Linked DNA regions of Homo sapiens: region 1 is linked to region 2. The links come from fine-mapping of genetic effects on gene expression. A gene starts in region 2. The other region holds a variant in brackets. All regions are shown on one strand. Distances are from middle to middle.

What was found. PIP is the estimated chance that this variant, and not a neighbour inherited with it, causes the effect.
Region 1: its variant is fine-mapped to the expression of PLIN4 in whole blood (TOPMed, PIP above 0.99).

Annotation. Positions count from the first base shown.
Region 1 is chr19:4,539,489-4,544,850 of GRCh38, forward strand. It overlaps LRG1 (leucine rich alpha-2-glycoprotein 1), which reads right to left and starts at 548. Exons shown (of 2, transcript NM_052972.3): 1 at 494-548. The coding sequence starts at 525. SEMA6B (semaphorin 6B) reads right to left here. Exons shown (of 17, transcript NM_032108.4): 17 at 3,105-5,041. The coding sequence ends at 4,113. The variant GAGGA/G (reference allele first, on the strand shown) is at 2,203.
Region 2 is chr19:4,515,968-4,521,329 of GRCh38, forward strand. PLIN4 (perilipin 4) reads right to left here and starts at 2,519. Exons shown (of 8, transcript NM_001367868.2): 1 at 2,418-2,519; 2 at 2,255-2,322; 3 at 1,587-1,731; 4 at 650-711. The coding sequence starts at 2,305.

The DNA.
Region 1 (5,362 bases), 24 kb after region 2:
CATGTTTTTGAGACAGAGTCTTGCTCAGTTGCCCAGGCTGGAGGGAACTGGCATGATCACAGCTCACTGCAGCCTCTGAACATGAAAAGTGTGTCCTGCTTTGGCCAGGTCTGAGGGTGGGCATTTGGCCTTGGGAAGCGGTGGTTTACACTTAGCACCACAACCCTTGGAAGCCTGGGGCTTCCCCTCCTCCTCCAGGGCTTCCCTGGCCCGGCAGCCATCAGACATGATCTCGACAGCCTTGGTCACTGTGGCCCCAGGCCTCTAACAAGAAGCCTCCCCCGGCTCCCTGCTGCCCATGCCCACCTGGGCTTCTGTAGGGGTGTGTGTGTGTGTGCACGCGCCAGTCTTTCTGTCACAGATAAGGTTGATCTGTGCCAGCCACCAGGCCTGTATCTGCTCCCTGTGACTTCTATGGGTTAGCTGGAATGTCCTGTATCTCCGCATGGTCTGGCGTTCAAACCTGCCTAGGACAGGTAGTGTGGGGACCTACCTTTTTGGTCGCTGTCTGCTCCAAGAGGACATGGTAGCTCTGCTCTTTTGCTTCTGGGTTGTCCTGGCCTGCGGAGGTGGCCTTATACCTGCCTGGACTGGGGGCAGGGGAACCAACCCTGGGGAAGTCCCCACCCCCGTCCAGTTCCTGATAGGGGCTGAGCCTAAGCCAGGCAGGGGAAGGGGAGGGGTCAGGATTACAAAATTGCTTCCTGGAAATTGTTTCCTGTTCAACCCCTTTTTGACCCTGCTTCTAGAACACAGGTTTTTCTTTCCTTGCTTCCTGATTTTTGGGGGGCATCCAAGAGTCTCTCTAGTTGCATCCTCACTTCCCCCAACCCGGAGTTCAAGGGTCAAGGTTTGCAAGGCACTATTCCTGGAGACAGGGACAGCTCTCTGAGCAAGAGGAGGGATTTACCATAAACTTGAGCAACCCAGAAGCTCACTGAAAAGAACAAAAAAACTCGTCTTGATTTCATGGTATGTTGATATTGCTTTTTTTAAAAGAAGTCATTTTAAAAATACAGTCCAATAGTGAGTAATGCCAAACGTCTCTACGGTCCTTAGACAGTGGCTTGGGAGGAACCAAACCTGGTTCTGAATTCCAGCTCTGTCATGAACACCTTTGCTTTGTGACCTTTGGCAAGTGACTTAACTTTTCTTGGCCTCAGTTTCCCCATCTATGAAGCTGAACTCAAATCTCCAAGGGCTCCTTCTGCCCTTTTTTCTCTTCATCTGAATCTGACATCCATGCTATTGTTTCCATTCTTCCTCATTTCCTATTAAATGCGTTTGGAGGCTACAAATTTCCCTTTGAGAACAGCTTTGGCTGCATCTCATGGACTTGGCTGCAGAGTGCTTGCATTCTTGTTGAGTTCTAAATATTTAGGTATGATGGTGTCACCTTTATCTGCAGCTATGACTATTTTTTTTTTCTTTTTTTTTTTGAGACAGAGTCTTGCACTGTTGCCTAGGCTGGAGTGCAGTGGCGTGATCTCCACTCACTGCAAGCTCCGCCTCCCGGGTTCACGCCATTCTCCCACCTCAGCCTCCCGAGTAGCTGGGACTACAGGCATGCACCAGCGTGCCTGGTTAATTTTTATATTTTTAATAGAGACAGGATTTTGCCATGTGGCCCAGGCTGGTCTTGAACTCCTGAGCTCATGTGATCCACTGGCCTCGGCCTCCTAAACTGCTAAAATTACAGGTGTGAGCCACCATGCCCCGTCATTTTTTTTTTTTTTTGAGACAGCATTTTGCTCTGTTACCCAGCTTGGAGCAGTGTGGTGCAATCATAGCTAACTGTAGCTTTGACCATGGGTCCAAGGCCTCCCAAGTAGCTGGGACTACGGGCACGTGCCACCATGCCTGGCTAATTTTTTTTGAGATGGAGTCTCCCTCTGCCACCCATGCTGGAGTGCAGTGATGCAATTTCGGCTCACTGCAAGCTCCACCTCCTGGGTTCAAACGATTCTCCTGCCTCAGCCTCCCGAGTAGCTGGGAATACAGGCACATGCTACCATGCCTGGCTAATTTAAAAAATTCTTTTGTATGTTACCTAGGCTGGTCTCAAACTCCTGGGCTCAAGGAATCTTCTCAGTCTCTCAAAGTGCTGGGGTTATAGACGTGAGCCACTGCACTCCGTCAGTCTTGTGCCCTGCCCAGTCTCCGGAGCCCAGCCGTTAGTTGGTCTTAATCAACATGGACTGA[GAGGA/G]AGGAAGGCTTGTGAAATGTAGTGACACAGTAACAAAACGATCCATTAAAATGAAATGAGATCACATCCCTGCTTAAAACTCTCTGATGGCTTCTTGTCCCACTTAAAACAAAATTCATAAGGCTGGCCAGGCGCAGTGGCTCACGCCTGTAATCCCAGCATTTTGGGAGGCCGAGGCAAGCGGATCACCTGAGTTCAGGAGTTCGAGACCAGCCTGACCAATATGATGAAACCCCGTCTGTACTAAAAATACAAAAATTAGCGGGGCGTGGTGGCGGGTGCCTGTAGTCCCAGCTACTGGAGAGGCTGAGACAGGAGAATTGCTTGCACCCAGGAGGCATAGGTTGCAGTGAGCCGAGATCGCGCCACTATACTCCAGCCTGGGTGACAAAGTGAGACTCTGTCTCAAAAAAAGAAAAAGAAAAAGAAAAAGAAACTGGCTCCTATGCAGATGAAGATGGGGACCCCGAAGTCTCCATGTTTCCACACTCAGCTCCCCAGATTTGTTTTGACCCAGCCTTTTTTTTTTTTTTTTTTTTGAGACAGCGTCTCGCTCTGTCACCCAGGCTGTAGTGCAGTGGTGTGATCTCAGCTCACTGCAACCTCTGACTCTCAGATTCAAGCTATTCTTCTGCCTCAGTCGGCCGAGTAGCTGGAATTACAGGAACCCGCCACCAAGCCTGGCTGATTTTTTGTATTTTTAGTAGAGACGGGGTTTTGCCATGTTGGCCAGGCTAGTCTCGAACTCTTGACCTCAAGTGATCTGCACACCTCGGCCTCCCAAAGTGCCGGGATTACAGGCGTGAGCCACCGCGCCCGGCCTGGCCTTGACTTTTGAGGGTGCCCCCACCCGTGCCACCCCCAGGAGGCAGAGCAGAGCCAGAGTCATGGGGGCCGGTGGTTGTAAACAGAGTTTTATTGATGGGGAGGGGGCTGGGGGAGGCAAACTCCAGAGAGGGCAGAGGACCCAGCCAGCCACGTGGCATGCATGGTCAGCTGGAGGTCAGAGGGGGGAGGTCACAAGGGGACGGGTGGCATGGGACTCTCTCACCACCCTGGGGCCGTATTTACAGAGGGGCCCCACCCACCTTCGCCGCCCCCCAGGCCCCCAAGCCCTTTAGACAGCTGCTGCCGATGTGACTTCCGGGCAGGCCCTCCTCGTGTCTCCTGCCTGAAACCCCGGCATTGTCCCCGCTTCCCTCTGCAGAGTGGGGGGGGTTCAAACTCCTAACCGGCACCTCGGAGACCCCCGGGCCTTCTGGAAGCCCCAGCGTCGGCTCAGCCAACGCCCAGGCCGCTGGGGCCACCACGATCGTCGCTCGTGGACACACACCCTGCACGCGTGGCCCACTTGACACACACGCCCACAGCAGCCTTCGCTGGCACGCACACACACGCCCACCTCCCCGGCCCCTTGCACACGAACACGGCACGCACACGCACGCACACCCACACACGCCAGGGGCCTGGGTTGGGGAGGGACCTTTCCAGGGGTGGGGGAGGGCTTAGGTCTGCAGCTGTGGCCCCCCATTCCCCACCGGCGTCCAAGCCTCCCCTGCCTGCCGCCACCCCGAGAACGGAGTTGTGCAATTGGTTAGAAAACCGCAAAAGAAACCAAAACTGCAAAAAAAACCAAAACCTACGCGCATAAGGTCAACCTCAAATCCATAGCAAAGTCCTCCCGCCCACCCACCCCCAAACCGTCTCAGCGTCCTGCGGCCCCGGGTAGGGGGAGGGCGAGCTGGTTGTGCTTCCTTGTGGCGGAGGGGGCCCCCCACTCCGCGGGTGGGTCGCGGGGGGGACTTGAGCACCCACTCGGAGTTGCCCCGGGCCCCGGCGTTCTGGCACCGTCTCTCGCTCCTGGTTCCCGTGGCTGGCACTGCCAAGGCATCGGGGGGCCCCCGGCCTAGGGCACGGGGGGCGCAGTCCTGTCCGCCCCCCCATAGGGGAGGAGGTGGGCCAAGTCTGTGCCCGGCCGGGCGTGGCAGCCGCGGTGGCGGTCCCCAGGCCGGGCCTCGCCGCTGTTGAACGTGTGGGTGCGGCGCAGGGTGGCGGCCGGAGGGGCGTGGGGGCCCAGTGGCCTCCTCAGGCTGCCCGTCGGGGGCGGGCTCCAGGGCCGCGGGAGGCCATCGGCGGCTGAGGCTGGGTCCAAGGGGCCCGTGGGCGCGGACACCACCCGCCGGCGGTCCGGGCTGGCGTGGGGGGTGAGCGGGAAGTCGCCGTGGGAGGCGCGGCCGGGCCGGGCAGCATAGAGGCGGCCGTCGGGGGTCGGCTCCCCAGGCGCGGGGGGCTGCTCGGGGGCCCGGGCGGGCGCCAGCAGCAGGAGGGAGGATGAAGCGGAGGCCGGGAGCAGGGGGTGGCCGTGGTCCCAGGCGCGGGGGCCCAGGGCGTGGGGGTGCGGGTGCGGAGTGGGCAGGCGCTTCTGCGGCAGCGGCGTCTGCTCGGGCGTGGGCAGCAGCCCCGAGTCCAGGTCGTGGGGCCCGCCCTGCAGCAGCGTGGCCTTGGCCCAGCCGTTCTGCATCAGGGGCGCCAGCAGGGCCTCCGGGGGAACCCCGGCGCCACCGCCACCGCCTCCGCCCCGGCCCCCGGGACCCTGCGCCCTGCGCTCGCCCAGGCGGCTGACGCTCAGCACCGCCTCGCCCGCCCCGTGCGCCAGGATGGCCTCCTTGTCCTTGCGCCGGGCCAGCTCCCGCCGCTCACGGAGGCCCACGAACCAGCCCACGCTGAAGCCGGACACCACGGCTCCCACCACGAAGGCCGCCACCGACGACGTTACCAGCAGGTTCACCGACACCAGCCCCGCGCGGTCCTCGGAGAGGCTGGCCCGCAGGAGTCCTGGCCGGGGAGCACAGGGGGGTTAGTGGGGCCGGCGGGGTGGCCCTGGGCATCCCTCCTACCTCCTCGGGGCCCTCTGTCCTCTTTTTTATTATTTTTATTTTTTTTTATTTATTTATTTTTTGAGAAGGAGTCTTCCTTTGTGTGCCAGGCTGGAGTGCAGTGGGGCGATCTCGATTCACTGCAACCTCCGCCTCCCATGTTCAAGTGATTCTCCTGCCTCAGCCTCCCGAGTAGCTGGGACCACAGGTGCCCACCACCACGCCCGGCTAATTTTTGTATTTTTAGTAGGATGGGGTTTCACCACGTTGGCCAGGCTGG
Region 2 (5,362 bases):
AAATGCTGATTAAAACAGATCCTCTTGCCAGGCGCAGTGGCTAATGCCTGTAATCCCAGCACTTTGGGAGGCTGAGGTGGGTGGATCACTTGAGGTCAGGAGTTGGAGACCAGCCTGGTGAAACCAACATGGTGAAACCCCGTATCTACTAAAAATACAAAAATTAGCTGGGCATGGCGGTGAGCACTTGTAGTCCCAGCTACTCAGGAGGTTGAGGCAGGAGAATCGCTTGAACCTGGGAGGCAGAGGTTGCAGTGAACTGAGATTGTGCCACTGCACTCCAGCCTGGGTGAAACAGCAAAACTGCATCTCAAAAAATAAAAGTAGAAGAAATAAAGTGCTTACGCTGCTGTCGCTTTGGTCTCATCTTGCCAGGCACAGCCCTGTGTAGACTGGAACCTTACGTGATTAGAGTGGGGTAGCACTGCACCCATTTCACAGATGTGGAAATAGAGGCTCAGAGGGGAAGCTCCGCCTGGGATCCCCAGGCTGTCTGCCTTCCCTCAGGCCCACAGCAGCCCCCCAGATAGCAGGAACTGAAATGTCCCAGGAGGGAGCAGCCCCCCAGATAGCAGGAACTGAAATGTCGCAGGAGGGGGCACCCCCAGGGCTCCTGCCACATCAGACCCTGCCCTGCACATCCTCTCACCTTTTCCGAAGGTTGCAGCTCCTTCTCCGTCCATGGGGCCGTCTGCTCTGGGTGGGCAGCCACTGTGGGGACAGGGGCCGGTCAGGGAGAGTGAGGGATGCAGTTAGAACCATCTACCCGGCTGCCCATTGCACAATAGCCAGGCACAGCCTAAAAGGTCAGGAATGTTTCAGCTACCCCGCCAGGGACAGCAGGAGGTGACATCCACGGCTACCAGCCAGACCTGGTCACCCCCCAACCCCGCTGGGGGCTCCCCCCAAGCCCAGGGCCGCTGTTCCCTGAAGTAGGGCTCTGTGGAACTTCCTCTGCTGGGTGGACACCCACCCTGAGTCCCGGGGTTCATATAGCCTGGCATGGGGGAACAGCCCCTTGCCCAGCCCGCCCCGCCCCCACCGCAGCTGCCTGCTGCCTATTGCCAGGCCAAGGCATGTGGAGCAGAAGTCAGCTGCCTGGGGCTCTGGGCCCAGAGGGAGGCCCAGCTCAGGCGGCTGCCCCAACCCTGGGTTCCCTGTCACCGTCCCTGATCGCCCAAGCTGAGCCACAGGAGGCTGGGGAGCCCCTGGGCTGTGTGACCCCAGGGGAGCTGTTGCTCCTCCCTGGGAGTCTGGATCTCACTCTGATGAGCTCAGATGGGCAGAGCACCCAGCCTGGGCCATGGTGCATCAGAAACGGAGTGCAGGGTGGGGGAACGGCCGAGGGACTGAGTGGGGGGGCATTGCAGGGAGACAGGCTGGGTTGAAAGCCACCTTCGGCCACTCACCCCCCATATTTATGCCTCAGTTTCCCCATCCACCACAAGATGTCCTAGTGTCTGATGAGAGCACACAGACAAATATGGAGGACTCCCCAAATGGCTGGAAGTCCCTGCCCGGGGAGCTCCTTCTCCCAGGTCCATGTGTAGAGTCCCCCCACGCCCCCAGCTGGGCCAGCCACTCACCCTGAGCCTGTGGTTGGGCAGCCTCGGCAGCAGGCGCTCCTGTGGGGTCAGCGGCCGGCCGGGCTCTCGCCGAGCTATGTGCGTTGGCCACCAGGTTCCGGGCAGAGCTGAAGCCAGGCAGGGACCCAAAGAAGCTGCCCAGGGTCTGCATGGGGGCGGGGGGTGTGCAGGATGAGCAGGCCAAGCCTCGGCAGGAACGGGTCAGAGGAAGCATCGATTGATCAGCCCAATGCCGCCCCGGCCCCTTGCTCCTGGGTGACCTCAGGAAAGTGTTTCAGCCACTCAGCCTCAATTTCCACACCTGGGCAATGGGCAGACTCAGCCTGCCTCCCATGCACAGAGGAAAAGATCGTCTACCCGATCTCCAAAGACCTTTTCCTTCCAGGATCCCCACTGCACAGATGGGGAAACTGAGGCTCAGAGAGGGGCGGAGCTGAGGCCGGCCCAAGGTCACTTGCTGGGGAAGGTGTCGAGGTCTGCGTGGGTCCCCCGCCTCCAGCTTGGGTCAGAAAGGAAGGGATTGGCATCATGGCTCCCAGACCGCCCCCACCAGCCCACCAGGGAAGCACCTCTCCAGATTCGAGACCCCAGGACTGTGGAGGTCACCTTCCCCGGCTCTGGGGCATCTCCAGGCCCCAGCAAGAATCTGCCCCATTTCCCCTCTTTACCTTGCCCTTCGGTTTGGGGGGATCCCGTCTCCCTTCGTCTGGAGCAGACATAGTGAGAACGTGAGAAGCTGGAAGGGGGCAGAGAAGGTGCGTGAATGGGGGTTCCCTAGCCTCCCATCCCACACCCACTCCCCACTGAAAGCCTGAGCAGCCCGACACCCACCTGCAGGCCTGGCCTCACCCTGGTGTCACCGAAGCAGACGCGGCCCCGCTCACCTGGACTGCGCGGGGTCCCCTGGAGGACGGACCGGCCCGGCTGGCAGCTGGCTCTACCCTCAGCTCCCTGGCCTTATAGGGTCCGGGGCAGGCGCAGGCCCAGCCAGCAGCGGCAGGCGGCCAATGGGCCCGGGGGAGGTGGCCTGGACGGTCACATGGCTACCTGCCCAGCCCAGCATGGGCCCAGGCCCAGCACCTTTCCCCTGTTTCCTGCCCACAGCTTGCATCAGGCTGAGTGGCTCACAGGCCAGATGGGCTCCCCTCCCGGGCCCCTGAGCCTCCAGTTCCATCCACGAGGTGGGTGTAGTTCAAATCTCTGCTGCACCAGGATGCCTTGGCCAGTTACCATCTTTTTGCTTCAGGTTTCTCTCTCGTACTCCGCACCACGTCCCGTAACATCCAGCTTCTTCTCTGCTCTCATCTCCCCCAGCTTCCTCCTTCGCTTGCTTCATCCCAGCCACACAGGCCTCCTCGCTATGCCTCCAGCGCACCTGGCACGGTCCTGCCTTAGGGCCTCTGCACGGGCTGTGCCCTCTGCCTGGAACACCTTCCCTGCAGGTTCCCACAGGGCACCCTCTTCCGCCCACAGAACAGTGCCTGGCATACATTTGGCGCTTAATACACGTTTGGCTCAATGGAGCAACACAGAGAGTGGTTGTGAGCCTCTGTGAGATGAGGTCATGCACTGAACAAATGCTGCCTTCGCGTTACCCAGGCAGAAGCGGGGTCTCGGGGTCTCGGCAAGGAGCAGGGGGTGTCCTCAGTGTGGAGGGGAGCCCATCACTCTCCGGAAGGGACTTGGGCCAAAACGCAGACCAAGATGGAGCACCAGCCAAGCTGGGGGCACCCTAGGAGTGGAAACCCAGCCTGGGGGGCTTGGGCCAACCCAGGGAGGCTCCCTGGAGGAGGCGTCCTGTTCCAGAAGTGGTGAGGATGGGATTCAAACCCAGACCCTCCTGTTCCAGGAAGTGGTGAGGACGGGATTCAAACCCAGACCCAGGACCTTCGTGCTGAGCCCAGCCTATGTGCTGGGCTGTCTGTGGGTGGGTGGGCAGAGGAATGGCCGTAACGCCCACCCTGGGCTGTGTCCCCCTCCTACCTGCCCCTGAGACAGGGTTCCTAGCCCTGTGTTATTGGGGGTGAGAGGGCAGACCCCATGGGTGGCTCTGGGCACTGGGCTGGGAGGAGGGAGGGTACAGCCACAGGATCTGATGATTCCCAGGCCGTCTGTCTCCTTGGAGCCGACACTGTGTTTGCCAAACAGTGGGGGAACAGAAGGGGGGGTGTCCCCCAACCTCTTCTACCAGCCAGTGCTTCCCAAGGGTGGCTGGGAGAGCTCTGGGTGCCCCTCCCCTTCCCAAAGGGCAGCCACAGCCCAGTGTGTGGAGAGAAAAAATTAAAAAGTGATCATAAACATCCCAGCCAGGATCTACCCCTCCTCTGCCCAGCACCCTCCATGGCTCCCACCTTCTCCGGGGTGGGAGCCCAGGGTCAAAGCCCAAGTCCCCTTCCTGCAGCCCGGTAGGCCCTGCATAACCTGCCTCGTCTGCTCCCCACCTTCCTCTCCTTCTTCTCTTCACTCTGCTCCAGCCACACGGGCCTTTTCACTGTTCCCATAACATGCCAGGACAGAGTCCCTCAAAGACACACGTGACTGTGCCTGCTTAGCCCCGCACACCCTTCCTCAGGGCTTTCGTGTGGGTTGTTGCTTTTGCCTCCAGCACCCTTTCCCACATCCCTCACCTCCTTCCAGGTCTTTCCTCAAATATCACTTCCTCAAAGAGGCATTCCTGGATCTCCTCTCCCTTTAAAAAATATATACCTCAGGCCAGGTGCCATGGCTCACCCTGTAACCCCAGCATTTAGGGAGACCGAGGCAGGAGGATTGGCTTGAGCACAGGAGTTTGAGACCAGCCTGGGCGACAGAGCGCCACCCCGCCTCAAAAGAACAAAAGAAAAAAAAAAAAAAATAAATAAAAAAAATATATTTTATATATATATATTTCTGTTGAGGCGGGGTCGCGCTCTGTCGCCCAGGCTGGAGTACAGTGGTGCGATCTCGGCTCACTGCAAGCTCTGCCTCCCGGGTTCATGCCATTCTCCTGCCTCAGCCTCCCGAGTAGCTGGGACTACAGGCACTCGCCACCACACCCAGCTAATTTTTTGTATTTTTAGTAGAGACAGGGTTTCACTGTGCTAGGCAGGATGGTCTCGATCTCCTGACCTCGTGATCCACCTGCCTCGGCCTCCCAAAGCGCTGGGGTTACAGGCATGAGCCACTGTGCCCGGCTGCCCAAAATATATCTTTAAATAAAAATTAAATGAATTAATGGGCCAGGCGCGGTGACTCATGCCTGTAATCCCAGCATCTTGGGAGGCCGAGGCAGGTGGATCACCTGAGGTCAGGGTTCGAGACCAGCCTGGCCAACATGGCAAAACCCTATCTCTACTAAAAATACAAAAATCAGCTGTGTGTGGTGGCGCACGCCTGTAATCCCAGCTACTCGGGAGGCTGAGGCAGGAGAATCACTTGAACCTGGGAGGTGGAGGTTGCAGTGAGCCAAGATCGCGCCACTGCACTCCAGCCTGGGTGACAGAGTGAGACTCCTTCCCCACCCCCCCAAAGAAAAGAAAAGAAAAGAAAAATCCCAGGGCTTAGCTCAACCCATTCTCTTTTCCTCACCTCTGCTGCAGTGAAACTGATTTCCCTACTGCTGTGCCTTTCCCTAAGCTGTTCCCTCTGCCAAAATGCCTACCCCTATGTGCTGTTCTGATCATCCTCAACAGGCCTGGCCCTGCCAGGAGCCCCCAGCCTCATGTGGGAAGAGAGAGCAAGGCTGCCTGTGGCTATAAAGTCAAGGTGGAAAGGGCAAGAAACCTTGAGAAGGTGGC